2 separate regions of the Homo sapiens genome follow, and region 2 is linked to region 1. The links come from fine-mapping of genetic effects on gene expression. A gene starts in region 1. The other region holds a variant in brackets. All regions are shown on one strand. Distances are from middle to middle.

Region 1 (15,723 bases):
ACACCGAGGGTATTTGTAGCCAATGAAATAATACAGACTTTGCCACTGTAAATACCTAGAAGCAAAGTAAAATGGCTCTACCCGACCAACATCATAGTCACATCATTAAGAAAAAAGTGTCCCCCCAACAAAAGTAAATTCAAAAGTAAAAGAAGCAACTATTGCTTCATATGTGCAGAAATCAGTGTAAAGGTATAGGAGACATGAAAAAGCAAGATATTATGATACCCTGAAAGGAACGTAATAATTCTCCAGCAATACATCTTAACCAAAAAGAAAGTCTTGAAATGCCAGATATAGTATTCAAAATATTGATTTTAAAGATGGTCAATAAGATGCAAGAGAAATCTGAAAACTTATGCAAAGAAATCAGAAAATCAGTTTAGGATATAAATGTGAAATTTACCAAGAAGATAAGATACCTTTGAAAAAAAAACCTAACAAATTATTGATCTGAAAATTTCATTGAAGGAATTACAAAATACATTTGAAAGCTTCAACAATAGACTAGATTAAGCAGAAGAAAGAAGACAATTCTTCTGAAGTAATCCAGTCAGACAAAAATTTAAAAATAAATAAAAGAATGAACAAAACCCTCAAGACATTTAGGGCGACATAAAGTGACTGAACTTATGAATTACTGTCATCTGAGGGGAAAGAAAAATAAAAAAGGGTAGAAAATCTATTGAAATAAATAATCGACGAAAACTTACAAAGTTTAACCAGAGATTTGGACATTCAGATACTGGAGGTCCAGCAATCCTCAGAAAATTTATTGCAAAAAAGATTTCAACACAGCATACAATTTCAGACTGCTTAAAATCAAAGTAGAAGGAACTAATTTTAAAATCAGCAAGAGAAAAGCGCCTAGTCACTTACAAAGAAAACCCCATCAGACTAACAGTGAACTTCTCAGCAGAAACCTTACAGGACAGAGCAGAATGGGGTGGCATTTTCAAAGTGCTAAAAGAAAAAAACTTAGCCAAGAATTTTATATCCAGCAACATTAAGCTTCATAAATGAAGTAGAAATAAAGCCCCTCCCAGACAAGCAAACACTGAAGGAATTTGTCACCACTACACTGGTTCTATAAGAAATGCTCAAGAGTCCTAACTATGGGAATGAAAGGCTAATATTCACCATCATAAAAATACATGAATGTATAAAACTCACAGGTCTTATAAAATAATTAAACAGAGGAGGAAGACAAATAAATCAAATGGCAACACAACAGAATTCCACCAAAGCACAAAGAGACAGAGAAAGAGAAAGAAATAAAAAACTTATAACACAACTAGAAAACAACAATATGACAAGAACAAAACCTCACATATCAATATTAGCCTTGAATGTAAATGGAATAAATACTCCACCTAAAAGCTATAGATTTGCAGAATGAATTTTAAAAGATAATAAAACTATATGCTGCTTACAAGAAATTCACTTTACCTGTAAAGACACATATGGACTAAAAAAAAAAGGGGTGGATAAAGATATTCCACACAAATGGAGACCAAAAGTGAGCAGAAATAGATATACATCAGATAAAACAGACTTTAAATCATCAGTAAAGAAAAAGAAAAAGAAAATCAATATATGATAACAGGATCAAATCAGCAAGAGGATATAATAATTCTAAATGTATATGCACCCAACACCAGAGCACCCATATTCCTAAAACAAATATTTCTAGTTCTAAGGAAAGAGATAGACAGCAATACAATAGTAGTGGGGGACCTCAACACCCACTCAGAGCAGTAGACACATCATCAAGACAGAAAATCAACAAAGAAACATTGGACTTAAATTGGACTTCAAACCAAGCAAACCTAACAGATATTTATGGAATATTCTACTCAACAACTGCAGAATATACACTTTTCCCATCAGCACATGGAACATTCTCCAAGATAGACCATATGTTAGGCCACAAGGCAAGTCTCAACAAATTTTTAAAAATCAAAATCATATCAATTATCTTCTCAGACTGCAGGGGAATAAAGTAGAAATCAACAACAAGAGGAACTTTCGAAACCATACAAATATGTAGAAATTAACTATATGCTCCTGAATGATCACTGGGTCAGTGAAAAAATTAAGATTATAATTTAAAAGTTTTTTGAAACAAATGAAAATGGAAATACAACATATCAAAACCTATAGGATTCAGCAAAAGCAGTGCTAAGAGGGAAGTGGATAGCATTAAATGCCCATATCAAAAAAGCAGAAAGATTACAAATTAACAACCTAACATTACTTCTCAAGGAACTAGAAAAATAAGAACAAACCAAACCCAGAGTTACCAGAAGAAAATAAATAACAAAGGTCAAAGTAAAACTAAATGAAATAGAGACAAAAATGGATACAATATAATGGACCAATAAAACCAAAAATTGGTTCTTTGAAAGGAAAAAACCCTAAAACTGACAACTACTAGGTAGACTAACCAAGAAAAGGATAGAATATCCAAATACACAAAATCAGAAATGAAAAAGAAGACATTACAACTGATACCACAAAAATACAAAAGATCATTAGAGACCATTATGAACAATTATATACTAACAAACTATAAAACCTAGATTATAAGGATAAATTCCTGGAAAATACAACCTCCCAAGATTGAAACATGAACAAAGAAAAACCCTGAACAGACCAATAATAAGGAGCAAGATTGAATCAATAATAAAATATCTCCCCCACCAAAAAAGCCTAGGGTGAAATCGATTCACAGCCGAATTCTACCAAATGTACAAAGAACTAATACCAATTCCCCTAAAGCTGTTTCAAAAAATTGAGGAGGAGGGAATTATTCTTCCTACCTCATTCTACAAGGCCCTATGTTACCCTGATTCCTAAACCAAGGACACAACAAAAAAAAGAAAACTATAGACCAATATCCCTCAAGAACACAGATGCAAAAATCCTTAACTATATACTAGCAAGCTGAATTTAACAGCACATGAAAATGATAATACACATGATCAAGTGAGTGTTATACTAGGGATGCAGGGATGGTTCAACATACACAAATCAGCAAATGTGATGCACTGCATAAACCTAATTAAGGACAAAACCCACACGATCATCTCAATAGATGCAGAGAAAACATTTAATAAAATTCAGCATCCCTTCATGATAAAAATCCTCAAGAAACTAGGCATAGAAGGAACATACTAAAAAATAGTAAAGGCCACATATGACAAATTCACAGCCAACATCATACTGATGAGAGAAAAGTTGAAAACATTCCAAGAACTGGAACAAGACAAGAATGCCCACTTACACTACTGCTATTTAACATAGTACTGCAAGTTCTAGCCAGAGCAATCAGGCAAGAGAAATAAAAGGCATCTGAATTGGAAAACAGGAAGTCAAATTGTCCCTGTTTGCAAATGATATAATCTTATATCTAGAAAAACCTAAAGATGCCACTGAAAAAGTATTAGATTTGATAAATGAATTCAGGAAAGCTTCAGTATTCAAAATCAAAACAAAAAATCAGTAGCATTTCTGTACCCTAACAACATCTAGCTAAGAACAAAATCAAGAAGGCAATTCTACTTTTAATAGCTACAAAAAGCTCACCTCAGAATACATTTAACCAAAGAGGTGAAAACTCTCTACAAGGAAAGTTACAAAATACTGATGATAGAAATTGTAGATGATATAAACAAATGGAAAAACATCCCATGCTGTTCAGAGGAATTAATAATGTTACAATTATCATACTATCCAAAGCCATCTACAGATTCAATGCACTCCCTATCAAAATATCAACGTCATTCTCCACAGATTTAGAGAAAAAAAATCCTAGGCCGGGTGCGGTGGCTCACAGCTGTAATCCCAGCACTATGGGAGGCCAAGATGGGCATATCATGAGGTCAGGAGTTCAAGACCACCCTGGCCAACATGGTGAAAACCCATCTCTACTAAAAATACAAAAATTAGCCGGGCATGGTGGTGCACACGCGTAATCCCAGCTACTCTGGAGGCTGAGGCAGGAGAATTGCTTGAACCTGGGAGGCAGAGGTTGCAGTGAGCCGAGATCATGACCCTGCACTCCAGCCTGGGTGACAGAGTGAGACTCTGTGTAAAAAAAAAAAAAAAAAAAAAAAAAGAGAAAAGAAAAAGAAAAAGAAAAAAAATCCTAAAATTCATATGCAACCGAGAAAGAGCTCAAACAGCCAAAGCAATCCTGAACAAAAAGAACAAAGCTGGAGGCATAACTTCACCTGACTTCAAATTATACTATAAGGCTATAATAACCAAAACAGCATAGTACTGGTATAAAAACAGACACATAGGTCAATGGAACAGATAGAGATCCCAGAAATAAAGCCACATATCTACAGCCAACTGATCTTTGACAAAGTCAACAAGAACAAGCATGGGGAAAATACAACCTCTTCAATAAATGGTGCTGGGAAAATTGGATTGCCATATGCAGAAGAATGAAACTTGACCCTTATCTCTCGCCATATACAAAAATCAACTCAAGCTGTATTAAAGACTTAAATGGAATACCTGAAACTATAAACATACTAGAAGAAAACCTACGGAAAACCCCTCTGGACATTGGTCTGGGTAAATAATTCATGACTAAGACCTCAAAAGCACATGCAACAAACAGAAAAAGAGAGAAATGGGACTTAAACTAAAAATCTTCTTCATAGTGAAATAAACAGTAAGCAGAGTGAAGAGACACTTGCAGAATGGGAGAAAATTTTTGCAAGCTTTGCATACAAGAGGGGACTAATATCTAGAGTTTACAGGGAACTCAAACAGATCAACAACAACAACGAAACCCAAATAATCCCATTAAGAAGCAGGCAAAGAACACAAATAACACTTTACAAAAGAAGACATACAAATGGCCAACAGGCATATGAAAATATGCTCAACATCATCACTAAACATCAGAGAAATGCAAATTTAAACCACAATGAGGCCGGGCGCTGTGGCTCACGCCTGTAATCCCAGCAGTTTGGGAGGCCGAGGTGAGCAGATCACCTGAGATCAGGAGTTCAAGACCAGTCTGGCTAACATGGCGAAACCACGTCTCTCATAAAAAATACAAAAATTAGCCGGGCATGGTGGTGGGCACCTGTAATCCCAGCTACTTGGGAGGCTGAGGCGGGGAGAATTGCTTGAACCCAGGAGGCGGAGGTTGCAGTGAGCCGAGATCAAGCCACTGCACTCCAGCCTGGGCGACAGAGCGAGGTTGTGGGGGAAAAAAAAGAGATATTATCTTACATCAGTCACAGTAGCTGTTATTAAAAAGACAGGCCGGGCCGGGTGCGGTGGCTCACGCCTGTAATCCCAGCACTTTGGGAGGCCGAGGCGGGCAGATCACGAGATCAGGAGATTAAGACCATCCTGGCTAACACGGCGAAACCCCGTCTCTACTAAAAAATACAAAAAAGTAGCCAGGCGTGGTGGCGGGCCCCTGTAGTCCCAGCTACTTGGGAGGCTGAGGCAGGAGAATGGCGTGAACCCGGGAGGCGGAGCTTGCAGTGAGCCCAGATCGCGCCACTGCACTCCAGCCTGGGCGACAGAGCGAGACTCCGTCTCAAAAGGAAAAAAAAATCAAAACAAACAAAAACAGGCCGAGCTCGGTGGCTCATGCCTGTAATCCCAGCACTTTGGTAAACTGAGGTGACCGGATCACCTAAGGTCGGGAGTTTGCGACCAGCCTGACCAACATGGAGAAACCTGTCTCCACTAAAAATACAAAATTAGCCGGGTGTGGTGGTGCATGCCTGTAATCCCAGCTACTCAGGAGGCTGAGGCAGGAGAATTGCTTGAACCTGGGCGGAGGTTGCGGTGAGCCGAGATCGGGCCACTGCACTCTAGCCTGGGTAACAAGAGCAAAACTCCGTCTCAAAAAATAAAATAAAATAATAAAAATAAAAAGACAAAGAAGATGTTGGTGAGGATGTGGAGAAAAGGAAACTCCTATACACTGTTGGTGAGAAAGTGAAATTAGTATAACCTATGGAAAACAGTGTGGAGAATTCTCAAAGAACTAAAAATAGAATTACCATTTGATAAAGCAATCCTGTTACTGAGTATCTACCCAAAGGAAATCATTATATATATAAAAAAAATACCTGCACTCATATGTTTATCACAGCACTATTCACAATATCACAGGTATGGAATTAACCTAAATGTCCATGAATGGATGAATAAAGAAAATGTGTTATATATACACAATGGAATACTATTCAGCCATAAGAAAGAATGAAATTGTCTTTTGCAGCATCATGGATGGAACTAGTGGCCACTATCTTCAGTGAAACAACTCAGGCACAGAAAGAAAAACACATGTTTTCACTTTAAGTATGAGCTAAAGGATATGTACACATGGATGTAGAGTGTGGGATGATAGACAATGAAGACTCAAAAGGTGTGGGGGGGTTTCAGGGATAATCATAAATTACCTGACTGGTACAATGCATATAACGTACTATAGGGCGTGGATACCTTAAAAGCCTTGACATCACCACTACACAACTGATGCATGTAACAAAATTACACTTGTACCTCATAAATTTATAAAAGTTTTTAAAAGCCAAAAACAAAAGAATTCTAGAAAACTTGTATCTGCCTCTGTGAATGTCACCTCTTCCCAATACTTAAGATCAATAATGATTAGTGGATATTTTCCGTTGGTGCAAAAGTAAGTAATTGCGGCTTTTGCCATTAAAGTAAACCAATATTTTCCAACTGGCCAATACATGATGTTACGAAATCATGCGTGATAAAAGAATCCATTCAAAGTGCAGTGTAGACCAACGGATTTTATGTAATAGAGTAGAAAAAGTTCATCTACGTGGTTTCAGATTGTACACTAACAAAACTATCCCTTGTTCGACTTGTATCTTTATATACTTTAACAAAAACAACATACGCAACAGATTAAACATAGAAGCAGATATGAGAATCCAGCTTTCTAGTAAGTCAGAAAAGACTTAAAAAGCGAAGCCACTCCTTACTAAATTTTTTCTTTTGTAAAATATATGTAATTTTCATTAAAATATTATTTATGTTAACATGTAATGGGAATTTTACGAATCTGTTATTAAAGTGTAAAGCAAAATAAGACTTTTACCATTTCAGTAAAGCAGGGACTAGAACACTTGTAACCTAATTTACATCCCTCCAACCGTTGAGCCATTGGTGTCAAGTATTTTAATTCTCTTTAAAATTTAAAACCTGCAAGCGCGGGAGCTCAGGGACCTGGCCAGGAAGGCCTGAGCTTCCGGGTCATCTTAGCACGCCCCCTCCCGGTGGCCCTTGGCCGGAGCCCTCCGGCGCGGGAGTAACTCCTCGCAGAGGCCTCTGGGAGTTGTAGTTTTTTTGCCTTTGCCTCTCCATGACGCAATTCCTGTGCGACATACGTAGCGGCCGCCATTGTTCCGCGCCGATGGCGAGATCCTTGTTCCTCAGATAGCGTTCATCGCCCGTCGTGGTCAACGGGCCAGCCGAGTCTGGAGTGGTTGCGAACCCTTCTGGCTGCAGATCTGGAGGTGGAGGCAGTACCCTGGACTCTATTCTGCTGCCCCTTCAGGGTTTGGAGGAGCCGGAGGTGCGGAATTCCTCCGGTTTCAAGGCGGCGGGACGGGACAGAACTAATCTGCCTTAGCTCTCTCCTGCTGCTGACCCGGGGCGGTTGCCTGACCCTAACCTGTGTGTTGGTGAGGGTGTGGAGATGGTGAATCCCGTGCTGTGGGAGGGAAGGAGCCTCAGCTCCGAGAATGGCAGGCAGCCCTGGTGCCTCGGACCCTCCCCCTCTGGGTTTGGGGACTGCTGGGTGACCTCTTTCTTCACTGTGCTCTCTCTTCTAGCATCCCTCGCGTCCTGTCACTTCCAGCGAGGCACACAAAACTGACCGTAGGGATGGCCACCAGGGTCCGGACAGCTTCTATTTGGGTGAGTAGGGGTTTTCTTTCATTCTTGAAAAGCTCTCCCTGAATGCCAACGTGTGCGCACTCCATCTACTCCAGTCTGAATTTGCCAGGAGCTTTCTCACCCCACCGCTCTTTTAGGCAACTGGATCGTCATTTATAGCATGTTAGACTTTCCAGAAATGCTTCTTGTCATCCGACTTCCTTTTTTCCTCCTTTCATCAATCTCTTTTCTAACAACTTTGTACGCTGAACTTTGGAGTTAAACAAGGGATACTCACACATCTTTCAGTTTTTTCAGCCTTTATTTACTGAGGGCCTTCTGTATCTGGGATCTTTAAACCTTATTTTGGAAATTACAAACTTTTTTATTCACTTGTTCAACATTTTTTTTTATTGTATTTTGTTTGCTGGACCCTGGGGCAGGTGCTAAAAATGCAAAGATGGGTTGCTTATCATCCCTGTCTTGAAGAACAGTGGTCTAGGAATGGTGGATAAGAAAGACAATGACAAGTTAATGAGTGCTCTGGGAGCAGGCTGTGGAAATACACGGAGACATGCAGGAATGGGTCAGTTTTGGAAGTAAGGACACCCCCTAACCCCTTACTCCCAAATGCTTCAATGATTAAGAGATTCTTAACCTTAGGTTTGAAAGATGACAAACCTAAAGTAGACAAAGGATTAAAACCAGCCTAGGAAAAAGAAGTAACGTGCAAATTTGAGAGGCTTGAAATGACCTCATGTGGTGAACTTTGGGCACTTTAGGGTTGCTAAAATGTTGAGTTTAATGGTGATAGTAGAGTTATATTAAAAAATGAGGCTAGAGCCGTAGGCCTAAGATCATAGAGGGCTTTGAGGACCCCATTAAAAACTTGGATTGTATCACATAGGGCAGGTGGTCCCCAACCCCCACGCTTCAGACTGGTACCAGTCTGTGGTCTGTTAGGAACTGGGGTGCATGGCAGGAGGCGAGTGGCGGTTTAGTGAGCATGACTGCCGGAGCCCCGCCTCCTATCAGAGGCTGCATTAGCTTTTCATAGCACAAACCCTATTGTGAACTGCGCATGCGAAAGATCTAGGTTGCGCACTTCTTATGGGACTCTAATGCCTGATGATCTGAAGTGGAACAGTTTCATCCAGAAGCCATCGCCGCACCCGACTGCCCGTCCATGGAAAAATTGTCCTCCACAAAACGAGTCCCTGGTTGGGGACTGTTGGTATAGGGGAAGGAGTTTACTTATTGAAGTGTTTTCACAACGGATTTGAGGGTAGAACAGTCTAGTCTGCAGCAGGTAAGAGAATATAAGGGTTTAAGTAAATTAGTGGTTTTGAGAAAGGAGAGGAGGTGGCTGGGTGCAGTGGCTCCCACCTGTAATCCCTGTTACTCGGGAGGCTGAGACAGGAGAATCGCTTGAACCCAGGAGGCAGAGGTTGCAGTCAGCCGAGATCGCGCCACTGCACTCCAGCCTGGGTGACAGAGCAAGACTCTGTCTCAAAAAAAAAAAAAGGAGAGGAGGTAAAGAGGCAGAAGAAATTAGATTTCATAACTAGTTGGGTGCAGTGCTAAGAGAGGCAGAAAAGCCAGGGATGACAACTGGAGTTCTACTCTGTGGGCCTGGTTGGGAGTGTCACCATTTGCTGAGTAAGGGAAGACTGTCAGAATTGTGATTGGTAGAGGGGGAAGATTTCAGTTTTGTATGGATTGGCTCCTCTAGGTAGAGGTTGCAAATTAGGTGTGGCCAAAGTAGCTCAGGGAGAATGTGTACCCTAAGAAGAGAACTGAGGACAGTGGTCAGGGAAATGACAAGAGAAAGCAGGGGAAGAGGTGTTGAAGACTGAGATGGAACCCAAGAAAAGTAAGACAAAATAGAGACATGTAATTCACACTTAAAGAAATGGAAACCTCAAAAATGCTTGTCAAGTGACATGTATGAGGGAGATCAAGTAATATTAGATCATTGTCTTAGTCTGTTTGTGCTACTGTAACAAAATATCACAGACTGAGGAACTTATAACAGATACTACTTTCTCACAATTCTGGAGGCTGACAAGTTGAAGATCAAGGTGCTGGTGAATTTGGTATCTGATGAGGCCTGCTTTCTTGTTTTCTTTTTTTTTTTGGAGACAGTCTCTCTCTGTCCCCAGGCTGGAGTGCGGTGGCGCGATCTTGGCTCACTGCAACCTCTGCCTCCCGGGTTCAAGTGATTCCCCTGCCTCAGCCTCCCAAATAGGACTACAGGCGTGTGCCACCACGCCCAGCTAATTTTTTTTTTGTATTTTTAGTAGAGACGTGGTTTCATTGTGTTGGCCACAATGACCTCGATCTCCTGACCTCATGATCCACCTGTCTCAGCCTCCCAAAGTGCTGGGATTACAGGCGTGAGCCACCGCACCCGGCTCTGCTCTCTGCTTTCAAGATGGCACTTTCTTGCTACATCCTTACATGGTGGAAGGGGGCAAAAAGGGAAGAATGCTGTGTCCTCACATGGCCAAAGAGATGAAAGGGCCAGGCAGCTCTCTGAAACCTCTTTAAGAGGGTATTAATCCCATTCCTGAAGGAGAGCCGTCATGACTTAATCACTATTAAAAGGCCGCACCTCTTTATTTATTTATTTATTTGTTTATTTTTTTGAGACTGAGTCTCGCTCTGTCTTCCAGGCTGGAGTGCAGTGGCTATCTCTGCTCACCACAACGTCTGCTTCCCGAGTTCAAGTGGTTCTCTTGCCTCAGCCTCCTGAGTAGCTGGGATTACAGGTGCGCACCACCATGCCCAGCTAATTGGCCCCACCTCTTAATACCATCACAATGGGGGTTAAGTTTCAACATGAATTTTGGAGGGATGCAATCATTGAAACCGTAGCAGTCATAAAAACCTAAATGGAATTTAGTGGTGATGGGCTGTGTGTGGTGGGTCACGCCTGTAGTCCCAGCACTTTGGGAGGCCAAGGTGGGCAGATCATCTGAGGTCAGGAGTTCGAGACCAGCCTGGCCAACATGGCGAAACCTCGTCTCTACTAAAAATATGAAAATTAGCTGGGCGTGATGGTGGGCACCTGTAATCCCAGCTACACGGGAGGCTGAGGCAGAAAAATCGCTTGAACCCCAGGAGTAGGAGGTTGCAGTGAGCCAAGATCACGCCACTGCACTCCAATCTGGCGACAGAGTGAGACTCTGTCTCAAAAAAAAAAAAAAAAACAAAGAATGTGTGGTGGCTACTTTAGCTTGGGTGCTCAGGGAAGGCCCCCACTGAGGAAGTGACGTCTAAGCTAAGTCTGAGTTACAATAGCAAGCCAGCCTTGGGAAGAGCAGGTAGAAGAACATCCAGGATGGGAACAGCCAGGGCCAAGGCTGCGAGGCAAGAGAAGTTTGATGCCTTGGTAACCTGGAAGGAAGGACTTTGTGACTGGGGTAGGGAGTGAGAGAGAGGAGAGCAGATGAACACAGGTGCAGAGGCCAGATCAGGGAGTGAGAGAGAGGAGAGCAGATGAACAGAGGTGCAGAGGCCAGATCAGGTAACCTGGAAGGAAGGACTTTGTGACTGGGGGTAGGGAGTGAGAGAGAGGAGAGCAGATGAACACAGGTGCAGAGGCCAGATCAGGCTGGGAAGCCATGGGGCCCGGGAGAGTGTGTGGCGCTAAGACAGGGAGCAACGTGAGCTGCTTAGGGTTTCCAAAGACCCTTCTGAGTGCTGAGTGGGGGACAGGTTGTAGGTGGGCAAGAGTAGGCACAGAAAGAGGGGGAAGCCAGAGACTGACTAGGTGACCACGTTCAGACAAGAGGTAGCAGGGATTTTGTGTAGTGTGGTAGAAATGGAGACACTGGTCAGAGTTGGGGGATGTTTGAAGGTGGAGTCCTCTTTTCTAAGAACCAGCATATGCTTTTTATCTTGTTGATTGTCATTTTGTAGTGTGGTTTATTTTCATTAAGTATTCCTGGTTTTATGTTTTGTTTTGTTTTCTTTTGCCGTTTCAACCAAATGTTAATGCTCAGTGTCTACTACGTATGAGGTTCTGTGCTAAATCATTTATTAGGTATTATCACCTTAAAACTTCACAGTAGCCCTAGCCCCAGGTGGTGAATACTGTTTTTCTCCTTTGATGGGTAAGGGTACTGAGGTCCAGAAAGGGCTAGTTGGAGACCAGGTGGCACCCCTGGTCAATGTAGAGCCAGGACTTGAACCCAGATATTCTGGCTCTACATGCATTTTCCTGGCCTGTGTACCTTATTTAGTCTCTGGATGTAGGTTGAGGATTTCTTGAGGCAGAGATTCTAGGATCCTAGACCCTGAAATGTAGAGTAAAATGTGGAGCGGGTAGACTGTGCCCAGTGTACACAGAGAAGGCTCTGAGACATAAGCTGTTGGTCTCCAGGGAATAATCTTTTTTTTTTTTTTTGGAGATGGAGTCTCACTCTGTTGCCCAGGCTGGAGTACAGTGGCACTCACTGCAACCTCTGCTTCCCAGGTTCAAGCAATTCTCCTGCCTCAGCCTCCCAAGTAGCTGGGGCTACAGGTGTACGCTGCCACGCCTGGCTGATTTTTTTTTTGTATTTTAGTAGAGACGGGGTTTTACTGTGTTGCCCAGGCTGGTCTCGAACTCCTGAGTTCAGGCAACTCACCTGCCTCGACCTCTCAAAGTTCTGGGATTACAGGCATGAGCCACTGCGCCCAGCCTCCAGGGAATAATCTTAATGTCCATTAATGGTGAATGATGAAACGTGATGGAATACTATTCACCAACAAAAAGAACAAACTATTGATATGTGCTATGACAAGCATAAACCTTGAAAGCATTATGCGAAGTGAAAGAAGCCAGACACAAAAGACTAGATATTATATGATCCCATTTATATGGCACACACATGCGTATACGTATACTTGCAATCCCACTTCTTTTTTGTAACACAAAAGCTAGCTTTCTGTACGTACTATTCTTCCCCTTGTCATTATCACTAAGAGTATATATTGATCATTGTATTATACCAATAGTGGTACATAGAGGTTGTTCGCTCCCTCTTCCCTATCTCTTATCACCTTTTACTGGCTGTATGGATGGCCCATAGTGTTTTCAACCAGTTATGTAGTTACAGATATTTGGGTTATAAAAATGCCTTGGTGAACAGCCTTTTCATGGCATTTCATTCATTGTTTCTTTTTCTAATTTTTTATTCCTTTTTTTTTAGGCTTTCCCCACTTTTCACCTGTGCCGCCTTCTAGGTCGTTGGCGCTTTTTTATGTTCCTCCTAAATTTAATCTTCATTTCTGAATTTTTTTCCTAATTTATTTATTTATTCTGATATTTCTCATTTCACATTTTCCAGATTTCACATTTCTAAGCATCTACTTTCTAGGCTCTTTTATTTTTTATATATCTGTCCTTTCAAAGTTTCGTTTTTCTGATTTCTTTTACTTCATTTTGAAATATTATGTTACAATTTTTTATGTGGTCAGATATTTTGGTTATGTTTTTATTGTCTGTCAGAGCCTCGTTTGGTTCCTTATTCCCTCATAATAATGTTGTGTGGGTATTCCTACTGCCCTACCAAACCAGCCTATTAAGACGCCATTTGGTTTGTGGCAGGAAGTCCGTTTGGAGGCTAGGATGAGCCAGGACAGTTTTCTCTAGCTTTGCTGTTTGAGGGTCGTACCTGTATTTTTATCATGAAGGGCTCAAAACTTGACTTGAACTCTTGGTGCTAAGCCTTGTCAGGAAGCCATTTCTTTTCTGCCTCTAACCCTGCATTTCCTGAAGTTAAACCTGCCTTGTTTTCTAACGTGTTTCTCTCACATTTATGTGATGTGACCCCTATTTCCTTTTCCCCAAAGGAAATAATGCTCGCTAAAGTAAATTTGCTCTTGAGTCCACAGGTCCCACCTCTCCAAGAACGAAACAGTTCATGGGATAGGATCAGAAAGCTCCAAGGTCAGGAATCCATCTTGGGCCAAGGGACTCCTGGTCTGCAACCTCTCCCTGGAACACCCAGGCAGAAGCAGAAGAGTCGCAGAATAGAGAAAGTCCTAGAGTGGCTGTTTATTTCCCAAGAGCAGCCAAAAATCACCAAGTCCTGGGTGAGCTTCTCATTTGTTTATTCCTAGTGTTTTCTTTATTACCTTTTTTTTTTTTGGTGCAGAGAGGGATGGAGATCCTTAGGTCAGAGGGTTAAGTTAATCACTCCTCAGTTCAGTTCAAAACCCCCCCACTTTTTTTTTTGAGACAGGGTCTTGGTCTGTTGCCCAGAGTGGAGCGCAGTGGTGCAATCATAACTCACTGCAGCCTCAAACTCCAGGCTCAAGTGATCCTCCAGCCTCAGCCTCTTGAGTAGCTGGGACAGCAGGCAAGTGCCACCATGCCTGGCTGATGTTTTTTATTTTTAGTAGAGAGGAGGTCTCCCTGTGTGGCTCAGGCTGGTCATCAACTCCTAAGCTCAAGCAGTCCTCCTGCCTCAGCCTCCTGAGGTGCTGGGATGACAGTCATGAGCCACTGTGCCTGGCCCATGGCCCTTTTATCATCATTGGTTCATGTAAGGTCCTTATCTACCTTTATTTATATATTCTCTTATTTCCTCATACTCAATTTTCATCTCCTTTCCCATCCCCAAAAAGTTATTTTGTGTTTTATGTGTATCCTTTTTTTTAAAAAATGTGTGTTTACGTAATATGTATTGTTCGGGAAGCTTGTTAGAAATGCAGAATATCAGAGTTCACCTCAATGCTGTTAATATCAGACTCTTCATTTTAATAAGATTCAGTGATTCATGCACATTAAAGTTTAAAACAAACTTACTATGAAGCCTATATTCAAATTTTTTCCTCGGGTGCTTCTTTTACTTCCAATATTGGCTTGCTTTTTTAGTCTCTTAATGCTTACTTTTGATGAACAGATATTTCTAACTTTTACTGAGTCTGGATTGCAAATTTTTTTATTTTATTGCTAATGATTTTTGTGTCCTATTGTTTTCTTATCCTAAGCTCATAAAGATCTTTTTCTTTATTACTTTATTACTTTACCTTTCACTTTTCGATTTACAGTGCCTTTGGGATTGAGTTCAAATCCATGAACACAGGATTCCCCCATTATTTAGATCTTTGATTTTTAAAAGTCAATGTTTATAGTTTTGAGCATACAGATCCTACACAGATATTTTAGATTTATATGTAAGTTCTTTCTGTTTTGTTGTTGCTGTTGTAAACAGTATCAGTGTCTTAATTCCTTTTTTTTTTTTTTTTTTGAGATGGAGTCTTGCTCTGTCACTCAGGCTGGAGTGCAGTGGCACAATCTGGGCTCACTGCAGCCTCTGCCTCCTGGGTTCAAGCAGTTCTCCTACCTCAGCCTCCCGAGTAGCTGGGACTACAGGTGCGCACTACCATACCCGGCTAATTTTTGTATTTGTAGTAGAGACAGGGTTTCACCATGTTGGCCAGGCTGGTTTCAAACTCCTGACCTCAAGTGATTCACCTGCCTCGGCCTCCTAAAATGCTGGGAATACAGGTGTGAGCCACGGCATCCAGCTAGTTTCTTAATTTCAAAATCAAATGATTTATTGCTGTTATATAGGCATATAGCCAACTTTTATGTATTGACCATGTATCCTGTGACCTTGCTACATTCACTAGTTAGTTCTAGGAACTTTCTTAGGTTTTTTGGTATTTTCTTCATAAACAGTCGTGTCATCTTCATCTTTTCGTTGGCATCCTCAGTTTCCTTACTCTCTCTGTAAAAAAGGACAGTTTTGTTTCTTTCCAATCTGTATGCTGTTAACTACAAATTTTATTTCTTTAATAGATATGTAATAATTAAGCTTATCTGTTTGT
Region 2 (15,723 bases), 200 kb before region 1:
GCGTTATCGTTTCCGATGTTAAATGTACTCCTCATGGCAACCACAAAAAATAGCTATAGAACAGACACAAAAGAACATCAGAAAGGAATTTAAACATTCCACTATAAAAAATCAACTAGGTCGGGCGCAGTGGCTCACCCCTGTAATCCCAGCACTTTGGGAGACCAAGGTGGGTGGATCACCTGAGGTCAGGAGTTTGAGACCAGCCTGGCTAACATGGTGAAACCCTGTTTCTACTAACAATACAAAAAATTAGCCGGGCATGGTGGTGTGCGCCTGTAATCCCAGCTACTCAGGAGGCTGAGGCAGGAGAGTTGCTTGAACCCGGGAGGCAGAGGTTGCAGTGAGTCGAGATTGTGCCATTGCATTCCAGCTTGAGCAACAAGAGCAAAACTCCCTCTCAAAAAAAATAGATAAATAAACACAAAAGAAGACAGCAATGCAGGAAATTAGAGATAAAAACGCTTATAAGCCACTTCAAAAACAAAGCAAAATGACAGAAATAATATCTTCCGGCCAGGCACGGTGGCTCACACCTGTAATCCCAGCATTTTGGGAGGCTGAGACAGGTGGATCACCTGAGGTCAGGAGTTCGAGACCAGCCTGACCAATATGGTGAAACCCTCGTCTCTGTTAAAAATGCAAACATTAGCTGGGCGTGGTGGCACGCATCTGTAGTCCCAGCTACTCGGGAGGCTGAGGCAGTAGAATCACTTGAACCCGGGAGGCGGAGGTTGCAGTGAGCTGAGATTGCGCCACTGCACTCCAGCCTGGGTGACAGAGCGAAACTCCATCTCAAAAAAAAAACTTCCTCATTAGTAGTTAATTTACATGTAAATGATAAACTTTTCAATCAAAAGACTTACATTTGAAGATTGAATAAAAATACATAATTCCACTATATGCTGTTATAAGAGACTGACTTTACATCCAAAAACACAAATAGTAGAAAGTGAAAGGATTGAAAAAGATATTCCATGTAAATATCCCAAAGAAAGCAGTGATGGTTGCATCAGACAAAATAGCCTTTAAACCAAAACAGATCACAAGACAAAGAATAACCTTGTAGATTAATAAAATATTCAACATAGGACATTATAATACTTATATATCTAATAACAGACCATAAAAATATATAAAGCAAAAACTGACAGAATTCATGAGAGCAATATTCTAGAGTAATAATTGAAGACTTCAATACCTCACTCTGTTTATGACTTAAGATATTTGCATCACTGTTGACAAGTGAAATCAATTTTTGTTTTCATTTTCTGTGATACTTTTTTAGGTTAACATAGTATTGTTATAATTGCTCCAGAAATTCGGAAGTTTTTTTGTTTGTTTGTTTGTTCTTTTTTGAAACGGAGTCTCATTCTGTTGCCAGGCTGGAGTGCAGTGGCGCGATCTCGGCTCACTGCAACTTCCGACTCCTGGGTTCAAGTGATTCTCCTGCCTCAGCCTCCTGAGTAGCTGGGATTACAGGTGCCCACCACCACGCCCGGCTAATTTTTGTATTTTTAGTAGAGACGGGGTTTCACCATGTTAGCCAGGATGGTCTTGATCTCCTGACGTCGTGATCCGTCTGCCTCGGCCTCTGAAAGTACTGGGATTACAGGTGTGAGCCATCACGCCCGGCCAGAAGTATTATTTATTCTGGAATAATTTATGAGCATTGGGATTATCTGGTCTTTGAAGTTTGGCAGCATTTTCCTATGAAACCATCAAAATCTGTTACTTTTTTGTGGGGTGGTTCTTCACAAGTTTATTTGATGAAAAGTAGGCTGTTGAGTCTTCTGAGGTAAATCTTGGAAAATTCAATTTTCCTAAGAATTTAATCATTTCATCTAGGTCTTCAAAATGTTTTTGCCTAGAGTTGGGCAAAAACGTCTTTTATGATTTAAAAAACATCTATCTTTTGTTTCAGTAGTTATTTCCTCTTTGTATGTCTTATTTTGTATATTTGTACTTTTTCTCTTTTTGCTGGATTAGAACACCGAGTTTTCTATTTTGTTAACGTTCTTCAAAAACAAATGTTTTTATTTATTAGTTCTGCTGTTGTTCTGCTTTCGACCTCATTTATTTCTGCTTTTATCTCTCTCATTTCCAATAGTCAAACTCAGTGGCCTTAATTAAGTTTTATTGAAATACAATTCACATGCCACAAAATGTGTCGATTGTAAGTATTCAATTCAGTGATACTAGTAAATTCATAGAGTTTTACTACCATGACCACAATGCAGCCTTAGAACATCTTCATTACCAAAGTTCTTTATGCCCATTTACATTTAACCCCTGTTCCTACTCCTATCCTTAGGCAACTACTGATGTGATTTTTCACTCTACAAATTTGCATTTTCTAGACATTTTATATCCACAAAATCATACATGCGATGACTTTTCTGTCTAGCTTCTTGACATCAGCATCATGTTTTTGAGGTTTATTCACATCGCATGTATCAGCACTTCCCCCCTCTTCTAATTGCTGAACAGTATTCCATCGTTATGGCTATACCACGTTTGTTTATCCAGGCATCATTTGATGGACATTTGAGTTGCTTTCACTTTTCTTTATCCAGTCAGCAGTTGATAGACATTTTGGGTTGTTTCCAGTTTCTGGCTATTATAAATAATATTGCTGGTCGGGTGCGGTGGCTCACGCCTGTAATCCCAGCACTTTGGGAGGCCGAGGTGGGCGGATCACGAGATCAGGAGATCGAGACCATCCTGGCTAACACGGTGAAACCCCGTCTCTACTAAAAATACAAAAAATTAGCTAGGCATGGTGGCGGGCACCTGTAGTCCCAGCTACTCAGGAGGCTGAGGCAGGAGAATGGCGTGAACCCGGGAGGCGGAGCTTGCAGTGAGCCGAGATCGTGCCACTGCACTCCAGCCTGGGCCAGAGTGAGACTCCGTCTCAAAATAATAATAATAATAATAATAATAATAATAATATTGCTATAAACATTATCATAAACGACTTTATACAGACATAAGTTTTCATTTTCTCTTAGCTATCTAGAAGTAGCATTGCAGAGTCATGCGGTAAGTTTATGGTTAACTTTTTAAGTAATGGTCAAACTGTTCTCCAAAGTGACTGCTATTTTTACATCTCACTAGCAAAGCATGAAGGCTCGTTTCTCCACATACTTGCCTACACTAGGTATTGTCTGTTTTTCTTATTATAGCCATTCTATTGAATTTTTACTGGTATCTCATTGTGGTTAACTTTGCTGTTCCCTAATGAATAATGACGTTGAGCATCTTTGTATGTGCTTATTAGCCATTTCTGTAGCTTCTTTGGTGAAAAAAATATATATATATTCAGATCTTTTGCTCATTTGCAAAATTGGGTTGCTTGTCTTATTATTGAGTCATAAGTGTTCTGAATACAAGTCTTTTATCAGATAAATGATTTGCAAATATTTTCTTTTAGACTGTGGCTTGTCTTCTCACTTTCTTCATACTGTCTTTTGAAACAAAAGTTTTTATATATTGACAAAGTTCAATTTATCAATGCTTTTATTTCATGGATCATGCTTTTGTTGTTATATCTGGAATCTCTTTACCCAACCCAAATTTACAACAATTTTCTATTGTATTATAGTTTTAGCTCTTACTTTTAGGTCTCTGACCCGTTTTCAGCTAATTTTCATGTATGACGTGTAAGGCAAGTCTTCTCCTTCTCCTCCTTTGGCATATAGGCATCCATTTACCCAGAATCATTTACTAAAGTCTACCTTTCATCATTGAATTATCTGGGTAACTATGTCAAAAATTAATTGGCCATAAATGTTACAATGTATTTCTAGATCCTTAGTTATTTTCCATTGATCTATTTACTTATCCTCTTGCTAATATCACACTGTCTTGATCACTGTGGCTTTATAGCAAATTTAAAATCAAGTAGTGTAAGTCTTACAACTTTATTCTTTTTCAAAATTGTTTTGCTATTCTATGTTCTTTGCATGTCATTATAAATTTTATGTTCAGCTTGCCAATTTTTACCAAAAAGTCTGGTGGGATTTTGACAGGAATTGCATTTAATTCATAGATCAATGTGAGGAGAATTGCCATATTGATAGTATTCAGCCTTTCAATCCACTAATATGAAATGTCTTTGTTTATTTAAATATTTGTTAATATCTCTGAGTAATGTTTTGTAGTTTCCAACATACAAGTTTGTACTTCCTTTTTTATTTTTTATTTTATTATTTTTTTTGAGACGGAGTCACGCTCTGTTGCCAGGCTGGAGTGCAGTGGCACAATCTCGGCTCACTGCAACCTCCGCCTCCTGGGTTCAAGCGATTCTCCTGCCTCAGCCTCCCGAGTAGCTGGGACTACAGTCGCCTGCCACCATGCCTGGCTAATTTTTGTATTTTTAGTAGTGACGGGGTTTCACCATGTTAGCCAGGATGGTCTCGATCTCCTGACATCGTGATCCACCAGCCTCAGCCTCCCATAGTGCTGGGATTACAGGCATGAGCCACCGTGCCCGGCCACATTTTTACTTCTTTTATTAAATGTATTACTATTTTATTCTTTTTGATGCTGTGAAAGAAATTGTTTACTTAACTTCATTTTAAGATTATTCACTGCTAGTATATAGAAGTATAGTGTTTATATATTGATCTTGTACCCTTTGACCATGCTAACATCATTTATTAGTTTCAGTGGTTTTATTATTATTATTGATTCCTAGAAATTTTTTATATAGAGGATTATGTCATCTGTGAATAAAGCCAATTTTACTTTTTTTTCCAATCTGGATGCTTCCTTTTCTTTCTTTTCTTTTGCTTGATTGCACCAGCTAGAACATCCAGTACAACATTGAACAGAACCAACTAGAACATCCAGTGCAACGTTGAACAGTATTAGCCAGAACATCCAGTACAATGTTGAACAGAACCAACTAGAACATCCAGTTCAACGTGGAACAGAACCGGCTAGAACATCCAGTACAACGTGGAACAGAACCGACTAGAACATCCAGTGCAACGTGGATCAGAACCGGCTAGAACATCCAGTGCAACGTGGATCAGAACCGGCTAGAACATCCAGTGCAACGTGGAACAGAACTGGCTAGAACATCCAGTGCAACGTGGAACAGAACCGGCTAGAACATCCAGTGCAACTTTGAACAGAAGTGTTGAAAGCAGACACCCTTGCTTGTTTCCTATTATAGGGGAAAAACACTCAGTCTTTCACCATTCTGTAGGATGTTAGCTAGGGTTTTTAAAAAATGCCCATTATCAAGTTGAGGAAATTCCCTTTTATTCCTAGATTGTTGAGAGTTTTTGCCATGAATAGACGTTGGTTTTGCTAAATGCCTTTTGCTGCATCTATTGAAATAGTCACATAGTTTTTGTTTTTTATTATACTGATTTTCAGTGTTGAACCAATCTTTCATTCTTGGTATATATTCCATTTGGTCATTTTACAAAATCCTTTTTGTATGTTGCCAGATTCAGCTTACTAACATTTTTCTTAAACAGCTTTATTAAGTTATAAAGTGATATAGAATAAACTGCATGTATTTAAACAATTTGGTAAGTTTTCACATGAGTAACCACCTGCAAAACCAGTTTCAGGAGAAAAAGAGTTTTCTCAAGCCTTAAGAATTTTTGTGTCTATGTCTATGGTACTACACACCATAGGAATATTGGTGTGTAGCTCTGTTTTGTTTTTCCCTCGTGATGTCTTTGTCTAGCTCTGGTATGAGAATAATACTGGCTTCATAGAATAAGTTGGGAAGTATTCCCTCTCATCTATTTTCTGAAAGAATTTGTAAAGAATTATCCTTTCTTCTTTAAGTATTTGATGGAACTCACTAGTGGAGCCATCCATTCCCAGATTTTCTCTGTGGGAAAATTTTTAATTAATTAATTTCTTTTTTTGAGACAGGGTCTCATTGTGTTGCCCAGACTGGAACGCAGTGGTGGGATCATGGCTCACTGCAGCCTCAACCTCTCAGGATCAAGCATTTCTCCTGCCTCAGCCTCCCAAGTAGCTGGGATTACAGGTGTATGCCACCACACCTGGCTAATTTTTTTAATTTTTAATTATTATGAGTACATAGTAGGTGTATACATTTATGGATTACATGAGATATTTTGATATAGAATGCATATTATAATGCAATGATTATTATGCAATGCATAAAAATCACATCAGGGAAAATGGGGTACCCTTAAGCATTTATCCTTTGTGTTACAAGCAATCCAATTATACTTTTAGTTATGTTAAAATGTACAATTAAATTATTTTTGAGTATATCCTGTTGTGCTAGAAAATACTAGGTCTTATTCTAACTATTTTTTCTGCCAAATGACTATTTCCATCCCCCACAGTGTCCCACTACCCTCCCAGCTGCTGGTAACCATCTTTCTACTCTCTATCACCATGAGTTCAATTGTTTTAATTTTTGGCTCTCACAAATAAGTGAGAATATGTGAAGTTTGTCTTCTCTGCCTCGCTTATTTCACTTAATATAATGATCTCCAGTTCCATCCATGTTGTTGCAAATGACAGGATCTCATTCTTTTTTATGGCTTCCTAGTACTCCATTGTGTATATGTACCACATTTTCTTTATTCATTAACCTGTTGATTGACACTTCGGTTACTTCCAAATCTTGGCTATTGTGAATAGTGCTGCAGTCAACAAGGGAGTGCAGACAGCTCTTGGATATACTGATTTTCTTTCTTTCGGGTATATACCTAGGAGTGGGATAGCTGCATTGTATGGTAGCTCTATTTTTATTTTTTTGAGGAACCTCCAAACTGTTCTCCATAGTGGTTGTACTAATTTACATTCCCACCAAGAATGTACCAGGGTTCCCTTTTCCCCATATCCTCACCAGCATTTATTATTGCTTGTCTTTTGGATAAAAGCCATTTTAACTGGGGTGAGATAATATCTCGTTGTAGTTTTGATTTGCATTTCTCTGATGATCAATTATATTGTGTACCTTTTCATATACCTGTTTGCCATTTGTATGTCTTCTTTTGAGAAATGTCTATTCAGATGTTTGGCACTTTTTTTTTTTTTTTTTTTTTGAGACAGGGTTTCACTCCTGTCATCGAGGCTGGAGTGCAATGGTGCAATCTCGGCTCACTGCAACCTCCACCTCACGGGCTCAAGCAATTCTGCTGCCTTAGCCCCCCAAGTAGCTGAGACTACAGATGCATGCCACCACATCCGGCTTACTTTTGATATGTTTTGTAGAGACGAGGTTTCACCATGTTGCCCAGGCTAGTCTCCAACTCCTGGGCTCATGCGATCCACCCACCTCAGCCCTCCAAAATGCTGGGATTACAGACGTGAGCCATCGTGCCTGGCCATTTTGCACATTTTTAAATCTCAAAAGGCCAATCTACAATAGTGGTGTTATCTGTAGGAGTAACTGGGGAAGTTGCGTGTCTTGTGACCAATCCACATCTTAGCAGAATTCAGGCTCCTCTCCTCCCGCTAGCTTGGTGGTCTCTCATAGGTTTTACAAAGGCAGTTGGGTTTTGGAAAAGGGCTATCATTTGAACTATAACCTAAATGTCTTCCAAAGTTAGCTTGGCCTAAGCCCAGGAATAATGAAGGCATCTTGACAGCCAAAGGCGCGCAGAGTTGGGGGTTTGGTTAGATTAGACCTCCCCCACTGCTATAATTTTCTCACTGATATAATTTTTGCAAAGGCAGTTTCATTACTGGTGTGGTTCTATTTATTTGTTTTTCACATCTACTATAGTTTCTCCTTTATGAAGTTGGTTACTGTATTATTTGGTGCACTGATATTCAAAACTGTTATTTAACCCTATGAACTGCAGCTTTTAGCTTTACAAAGCGTCCTTTTTTGCTGTGCCTTCTGGTCTGAACCCTATCTTGTTTGATATCAAAACCTCAGCACGCCTGCGTCTCTGCTGGGGTCGGACTCTGAGTCAGTTCTACAGGCCCTGGGAAACTGGGCGTCCAGGCTCCGAGGATGGTACTGAACCTGGCGCAGCCGTGGGAGGGTGAACCAGGTGCCGCTGGCGGAGCCCCCTCCCAGCCTTCCTTTCCCGTCAGGCTGTGCCCCTCTCTAGATCCGCGGCAGCTGGAAGCCAGGCCTGTAACGAGGGAGCCTTCTCCGAGGATTGTGGGAGATGTAGTTTTTCCGGCGCCTTCGCGTCCTGGCGCATCGACGCAGGACGCACTTCCGCATGCGCCGCACTCCCGGCCTTAGTCGGGTGCGCGCGTGCAGGGCTGTTTCCGGCTTAGACTCAGTGGACCGGAATCTGGCCAGCGGGTGTACCTGGCTGAGTCTCTGTGGCCGCGGAGGCGCGGAGCTAAGCGGCTCGGATTATCCTGGGCAGACCAGAGACTTGACCAGCT[A/G]AACACTTCCGTCGGTCCGGGGCGTGGACGGGGCCAGATCAGCCTCCTGCTCTCCCGAGTCAGGGCCACGGAAAGGCACAAATCCATCCGTGCGACTCCTGGTACCCAGACCGGGAGGTTGTCTAGTCACGCGCGGTCTGTGTTGGGCGAGAGCTGAGGAGCCGGCGTCCCTGCCAACGACTCGGCCCCGGGACGGTCAGGAGCCTGGGGCCCTGGTCCCGCACCTGTCTTCGGGCGGACGCATCCCTCACGGTCTCTCCGCAGCCCGCGGGTCCTGCCCCCGCAGGCAGCGCGCGAACGTGGGCGTGGGGATGGCCACCAGTTTCCGGACAGCTTCGTGCTGGGTAAGTAGAGACTTTCCGTGTTTAAAATTCGACTGGATACTGAGGGTGGCCACGTTAATCTCTTCAGGGTTACTCCGGGAACTGAACTCACATTCAGCTGTAATTGTGTGCGTAGTTTACTAGACTACCCTCCCCACCAAACCAAAGCGCCTCTGAAGCTCGCCCAAGCTCTGGCCCTGCAGAAACGTGCCTGTGGTATTCTGTGACGGGCAGTTATACTGCACTTCATGGCCAGCTGCGGGCCCTGAAGTCTGAGGATCCTCCATCATTTCATGTTTTCTACACAAAGTTGTCTTATGGAGACCCTTAGAACTTAGCTGGAGAAATGATCAGTTCCTCCTTTTTCGTTTGGCCAAATGCTTGTTTATGGAGTGTCCTTTTGTCTGCTGGACTCTAAGGCTGGTGCTGGCAATGCAGAGATAAATTATGTATGTTCCTAATTTTAGAGGAGCTTTGGTTTGGTGGAGAGGGTAGTCTAGTGAACTATGGACGCAATTACAGGTGAATGAATAGGGAGAAAAGGCTAGGAGCGGAGCTCGAGAGTCCGAAAGGTAAGGGGCGGGCCAGTGGATCATCGGGACTTTATGAATTATTGATGGAGTGAACCAGAGGGGAGTCTTTACAAGTGATTTGATTGCCAAATCCTTTGCCCTCGGTGAGTGGTGTTGACGACGTTGCCGGATGTGGTGCTCTACCATTGAGCTATACAGCCGGAGACTAGGAATGCTATTGGAAGAGGGACCCTGGGAATGACTTTCGCAGGTGTTGAATATCCAATGCCTGTATTTCAGCCTGTAACTCACATGGGAGGTCTAAACTGGAAATACATAAAGACACCTTATTGTATTCGTGGAAGCTCAGAGTGTGACCAACTGGAACCCTCAAGAGGACCGAGGTGAGGACTCAGGTTAATGAAAGGAAAGGACACACGGTGGAGAAAGGCTGTTGTGCTAAAGAAACGAGAGAAAGTTAGGAGTGGATTTCTCCCCCTGTGAGTTTGTTCCTTTGTCAGAGATCAGTTGACTATATTTATATGGGTCTATTTCTGGGCTCTTTATTGAGTTCTATTGATCTATTTGTTGTTTCACTAATACCACACTGCCACACTGTCTTGATTTTTGTAGCTTTGTAATAAGTCTTTTTTTATTTTTTTGAGACGGAGTCTCGCTCTGTCGCCCAGGCTGGAGTGCAGTGGCGCGATCTCGGCTCACTGCAACCTCTGCCTCCCGGGTTCGAGCGATTCTTGAGCCTCAGCCTCCCGAGTAGCTGGGATTACAGGCACATGCCACCCAGTCCGGGTAATTTTTGTATATTTTGTAGCGATGGAGTTTAGCCATGTTGCCCAGGCTGGTCTTTATAGTAAATCTTTTGTTTTTTTTTCAAGGCAGGATCTCACTCTGTTGCCCAGGTTGGAGTGCAGTGGAACAGTCACAACTCACTGCAGCCTCGAACTCCCGGGCTCAAGGGATCCTCCACCTCAGCCTCCTGAGTAGCTGGGATTACAGGCATATGCCACCACATCAGGCTAATTAAAAATTTTTTTTTTTTTTTGTACAGATAGGGTCTCACTGTGTTGCCCTGGCTGGCCTGCAACTCTTGGCCTCAAGCACTTCTTCCTCCTTGGCCTCCCAAAGCATTGGTGGGATAACAGGTGTGAGCCACCATGCCCAGCCTATAAGTCTTGAAGTCAGGTTCATTCTCCCAAATGTATTCTTCTGCTTCCGTATCCTGTTAGCTAATCTAAGTCTTTTGTCTGTCTGAACTTTATAATCAGTTTGTCAACATCTGCAAAATAACTTGCTGGGATTTTAACTGACAGTGCATTCAATCTGTAGATCAAGTTGGGAAGAGCTGAAGTCTTGAATATTGAGTCTTCCTATCCATGAACATGTTATATCTCTCTATCTAGTTCTTAGTTTTCATTCAGCAGTGTTTGGTAGTTTTTCTCATATAGATTTTATATAGTATCATTATATATTTTGTTAGACTTACACCTAAGTATTTAATTTTTGTGGGTGCTACTGTAAATGGTATTGTGTTTTTTATTTCAAATTCAGCTTACACCTGTGTACAGGAAAGGGGTTGACTTTTGTATATTAACTTTGTATCCTGCAACCTTGGTATAATCATGTAGTTCCAGGAGTCTTTCGGTGAATTTTTTTTTTTTTTTTTTTTTTTTTTTTGAGACAGAGTCTCGCTGTTGGCCAGGCTGGAGTGCAGTGGCACAATCTCGGCTCACTGCAACCTCCACCTCCTGGGTTCAAGCGATTCTCCTGCCTGAGCCTCCTGAGTAGCTGGTACTACAGGCATGTGCCACCACGCCCATCTAATTTTTTTGTATTTTTAGTAGAAATGGAGTTTCACTGTGTTAGCAGGATGGTCTCGATCTCCTGACCTCGTGATCAGCCCACCTCGGCCTCCTAAAGTGCTAGGATTACAGCCATGAGCCACCGTGCCGGGTCTGGTGAATTCTTTTGGACTTTGCACAATTATGCCATCTGTGAACAAAGTTTTATTCCTTCCTTCACAGTCATTATACATTTTACAGGTTAAGTATCTTTTATTCAAAATGCTTAAGACCAGAATTGTTTTGGATTTTGGATTTTTTCAGATCTTGGACTATTTACATATACATAAGATATCTTGGGGATGGGACCCAAGTCTAAACACAGAATTTGTTTATGTTTCATATATACTTTATACGTACAGCCTGAAGGTAATTTTATACAGTATTTTAAATAATTTTGTGTGTGAAACAAAGGTTGTATTAAGTTAATGTGTGGGATTTTCCACGTGTGAGGACTCAAAACGTTTTGAATTTTGGAGCATTTAGATTTCAGGTTTTTGGAACAGGGATTCTCATCCTGTATTTTCTGTTCTTGTTTTTTTGCCTCAGATAGGACTTCCAGTACAATGTTGAAAAAGAGTGGTGAGAGGGGATTAAAGATACATTTTGCCTTGTTGATCTTAGTGGGAAAGCTTCAAGTTTCTCACAGTTAAGTATGATGTTAGTTGTAGCATTTTTCTTGGTAGATATTCTCTATCAAGTTGAGAAAGACCCTTGTTCCTAGTTTAGTGAGGGTTTTTGTTGTTGTTAATTGTGAATGGGGTTGGATTTTGTCAGATTTTTTTTCTGGGCCAGATGTGGCTCACACCTGTAATCACTTTGGGAGGCTGAGGCAGGAGGATAGCTTTAGCCTAGGAATTCAGGACCAGCCTGGGCAACATAGTGAGACCCCATCTCTACAAAAAATTAAAAAACAAAATAGCTGGGCGTGGTGACACATGCCTGTAGTCTCAGCTACTGAGGAGGCTGAAGTGGAAGGATTGCTTGAGCCTGGGAGGTTGAGGCTGCTGTGAGCCATGTTTGCACCACTGCACTCCAGCCTGGGTGACAGAGCGAGACCCTGTCTCAAAAAAGAAAAAAAGTTTTTTCTGCATCTATCTATGCTTTTTCTTCTTTAGTCATTTGATACGATGGAACTGATTCAAGTATTGAACCAACCTTACATACCAGGAATAAATCCCACTTGGCTGTGGTGTACACTTGTTTTTATACATTGTTGTATTTTATTTTCTAGTATTTTGTTGAGGATTTTTGTATCTATATTTATGAGATAATTTTTCTGTAGTTTTCTAGGGTTTCTGTCTGGTTTTGGTATTAGAGCGATGCTGTCTTTATAGACTGAGTTAGGATTCCCTCTGCCTTTATCTTCTGAAAAATATTGTAGAGGGAAAAAAAGATTGGTGTGATTTTTTTCCTTAAATGTTTGGTAGACTTCACCAGTGAGTGAACCCATCTTGGCCTGGCACTTTCTGGTTTGGGTGATTCTTAATTTTTGATTCAATTTAGGCTTATTAGAGTGTCTGTTTCTTTTTGTTCAGTTTTGGCAGATTGTGTCTTTCAGGGATTTGGTCTGTTTCATCTAGGTCATGAAATGTGTGGACGTAGAATTGTACATAGTATGATGTTCCTTTATTGTCCTTTTTTCTTTTTATTTTTTTGATAGAGTCTCACTCTGTCACCCAGGCTGGAGTGCAGTGGCATGATCATGGCTCACTGCAACCTCTGCCTCCCAGGTTCAAGCGATTCTCCTGCCTCAGCCTCCCGAGTAGCTGGAAGTACAGGTGTGTGCCACCATGCCCGGCTAATTTTTGCGTTTTTAGTAGAGACAGGGTTTCACTATGTTGGCCAGGCTGGTCTCGAACTCCTGACCTCAAGTGATCCACCCACCTCAGCCTCCCAAAGTGCTGGGATTACAGGCATGAGCCACTGTGCCCAGCCTCCATTACTATTTTGAACAGACTAGGTCAACTAAGTATAAGAAAAATAGCTAGGCATGGCTGGGCGTGGTGGCTCAGGCCTGTAATCCCAGCACTTTGGGAGGCCGAGGCGGGTGAATCACGAGGTCAGATGTTCAAGACCAGCCTGATCAACATGGTGAAACCCTGTCACTACTAAAAATACAAAAGTTAGCGCCGGGCATGGTGGCACACACCTGTAATCCCAGCTGCTCAGGAGGCTGAGGCAGGAGAATCGCTTGAACTCAGGAAGCAGAGGTTGCAGTAAGCCAAGATCGTGCCACTGCACTCCAGCCCGGGCGACAGAGCGAGACTCAACAACAACAACAAAATAAAAATAGCTAGGCATGGTGGCTGATGCCTGTAATCCCAGCACTTTGGGAGACTGAAGCCAGGAGTTTGAGACCAGCCTGGGCAACGCAGAGACCTTGCCTATACAAAACAACAACAACAACAAAAAAAAAAAAAACCTAAAAAAAAAACCAGGTGTGCTAGTGTGCACCTGTAGCCCCAGCTACTTGGGAGGTGAGATGGTGAGGTGAGCCCAGGAGTTCGAGGCTGCTGTGCCACTGTACTCCAGCTTAGGCAACAGAGCGAGACCGTCTCAAAAAAATGATCAGAAAAAAAATTTTAATTTTACTTTCACTTATTCTTTCTTTGATGTTCTCACTTTTTAAAATATATATCTGTGGCCGGGCCTGGCGGCTCATCCCTGTAATCCCAGCACTCTGGGAGGCTGAGGCCGGCGGGTCATTTGAGGTCAGGAGTTCGAGACCAGCCTGGCCAACATGGTGAAACCCTGTCTCTACTACAAATACAAAAATTAGCTGGGCATGGTGGTGCGTGCCTGTAGGCCTGGCTACTTGGGAGGCTGAGGTATGAGAATCGCTTGAACCCAGGAGGCGGGGGTTGCAGTGAGCCAAGATCATGCCACTGCACTCCAGCCTGGGCAACAGGGTAAGACCCTATCTCAAAAAAAAAAAAGTGTATCTGTGTTTCTGACCTGTATTTTCCTTTTCTGCCTAGTTAAGGCAAGTTTACTTGAAATAGCAATAAATTATCTTAGTTTTTGTTTGAGAAAGACTTTTTTTTACTTTTGAAGGATAATTTTGCAGGGTACAGAATTCTGTTTTGATGATTTTTTTTTCTCTAAACACCTTAACTGTTTCACTCCATTTTCTTGCTTGTGTGGTTTCTGTAGGTAAGGTATTTTTTTTCATCTCTGGCTTATCTTTGATTTTTTGTGTTTTAAAAATGATATGCCTACGTGCAGGTTTTTTGGCATTTATCTTCTTGGTATTCTCGGATTTTCCTCCATCTGTGATTTGGTGTCTGACATTACTTCAGCGAAATTTTCAGTAATTATTGTTTCATATATAGATGCTCCTTGACTTGATGATGTGGTTACATCCTGATAAACTCATCATAAATTGAAAATCTCTTTGTCAGAAGTGCATTTTCGACTTACAATATGTTCAACTTATAATAGGTTTATCCAGATGGAGCCTCATCATAAGTTGGGGAACGTACTGAAGTGTATTGCTTCTGCGCCATTGTAAAATTGAAAAATACTAAGTCAAACCACTGTGCGTCAGGCACCGACTGTCTTTCTTCTGTTCTTTTCCTTTCCTTCGGGTATTTCCATTGTGCATATCTACACCTTTTGTGGCTGTCCATCTTGGATATTCTGTTCTTTTTTTTTTTCCCCAGTGTTCTCTTTGCTTGAAGGTTTCTGTTGATACATCCTTAAGTTCAAAGATTTTTTTCCTCAATCTCGTGCAGTCTACATAATACATAAGCCCATCAAAGGCATTCTTCACTTCTGTACAGTGTTTTTGATCACTAGTATTTCTTTTTTTTTTTTTTTGAGATGGAGTCTCACTTTCTTGCCCAGGCTGGAGTGCAGTGGTGCGATCTGGGCTCACTGCAGCCTCTACCTCTCAGGTTCAAGCCATTCTTGTGCCTCAGCCTCCTGAGTAGCTGGGACTACAGGTGCGCACCACCGTGCCTAGCTAATTTTTGTATTTTTAGTAGAGACAGAGTTTCAGTATGTTGGTTAGGCTGGTTTCGAACTTCTGACCTCAAGTGATCTACCCACCTCAGCCTCTCAAAGTGCTGGGATTACAGGTGTGAGCCACTACGCCTGGCCTGCCCATCTGTTCTTACATGCTGCCTACTTTATTCACTAGAGCCCATAACATATTATTCATGGTTGTTTTAAGTTTTGTCTGATACCTTCAACATCCCTATCATGTCTGGTTCTGATGCTTGCCCTGTCTGTGTTTTTGTTTTTGTTTTTATTTTTTTTTTTGAGATGGAGTCCAGGCTGGAGTGCAGTGGTGTGATCTTGGCTCACTACAACCTCCGCCTGTTGGGTTCAAGTGATTCTTCTGCCTCAGCCTCCCGAGTAGCTGGGACTACAGGTGCACTCCACCATGCCCGGCTGATTTTTGTATTTTTAGTAGAGACGGGGTTTCACCATACTGGCCAGGCTGATCTCGAATTCCTGACCTCAGGTGATCTACCCCCCTCGGCCTCCCAGAGTGCTGGGATTACAGGCGTGAGCCACGGCGCGTGGTTGCCCTATGTTTTTTTGCCTTTTAGTATTGCCTTGTCCCTTTACATTCATAGCTAGACATGATGTACTGAGTAAAAGGAATTACTTTTAATAGTACTTTACTAATGTGGTGATGAGATGTCAGGAAAGGGTGAGCAT

What was found. PIP is the estimated chance that this variant, and not a neighbour inherited with it, causes the effect.
Region 2: its variant is fine-mapped to the expression of ZNF268 in whole blood (INTERVAL, PIP 0.95).

What each region holds. Positions count from the first base shown.
Region 1 is chr12:133,174,093-133,189,815 of GRCh38, forward strand. It overlaps ZNF268 (zinc finger protein 268), which reads left to right and starts at 7,403. Exons shown (of 6, transcript NM_003415.3): 1 at 7,403-7,594; 2 at 7,854-7,938; 3 at 13,780-13,980. The coding sequence starts at 7,906. RefSeq lists enhancers at 7,121-7,645, 7,241-7,550, 7,591-7,790.
Region 2 is chr12:132,978,169-132,993,891 of GRCh38, forward strand. It overlaps ZNF26 (zinc finger protein 26), which reads left to right and starts at 8,199. Exons shown (of 4, transcript NM_019591.4): 1 at 8,199-8,705. The coding sequence starts at 8,673. It overlaps LOC124903064 (a long non-coding RNA gene), which reads left to right. Exons shown (of 2, transcript XR_007063552.1): 2 at 4,808-5,542. RefSeq lists enhancers at 7,820-8,289, 8,545-9,044, 8,770-8,819. The variant A/G (reference allele first, on the strand shown) is at 8,362.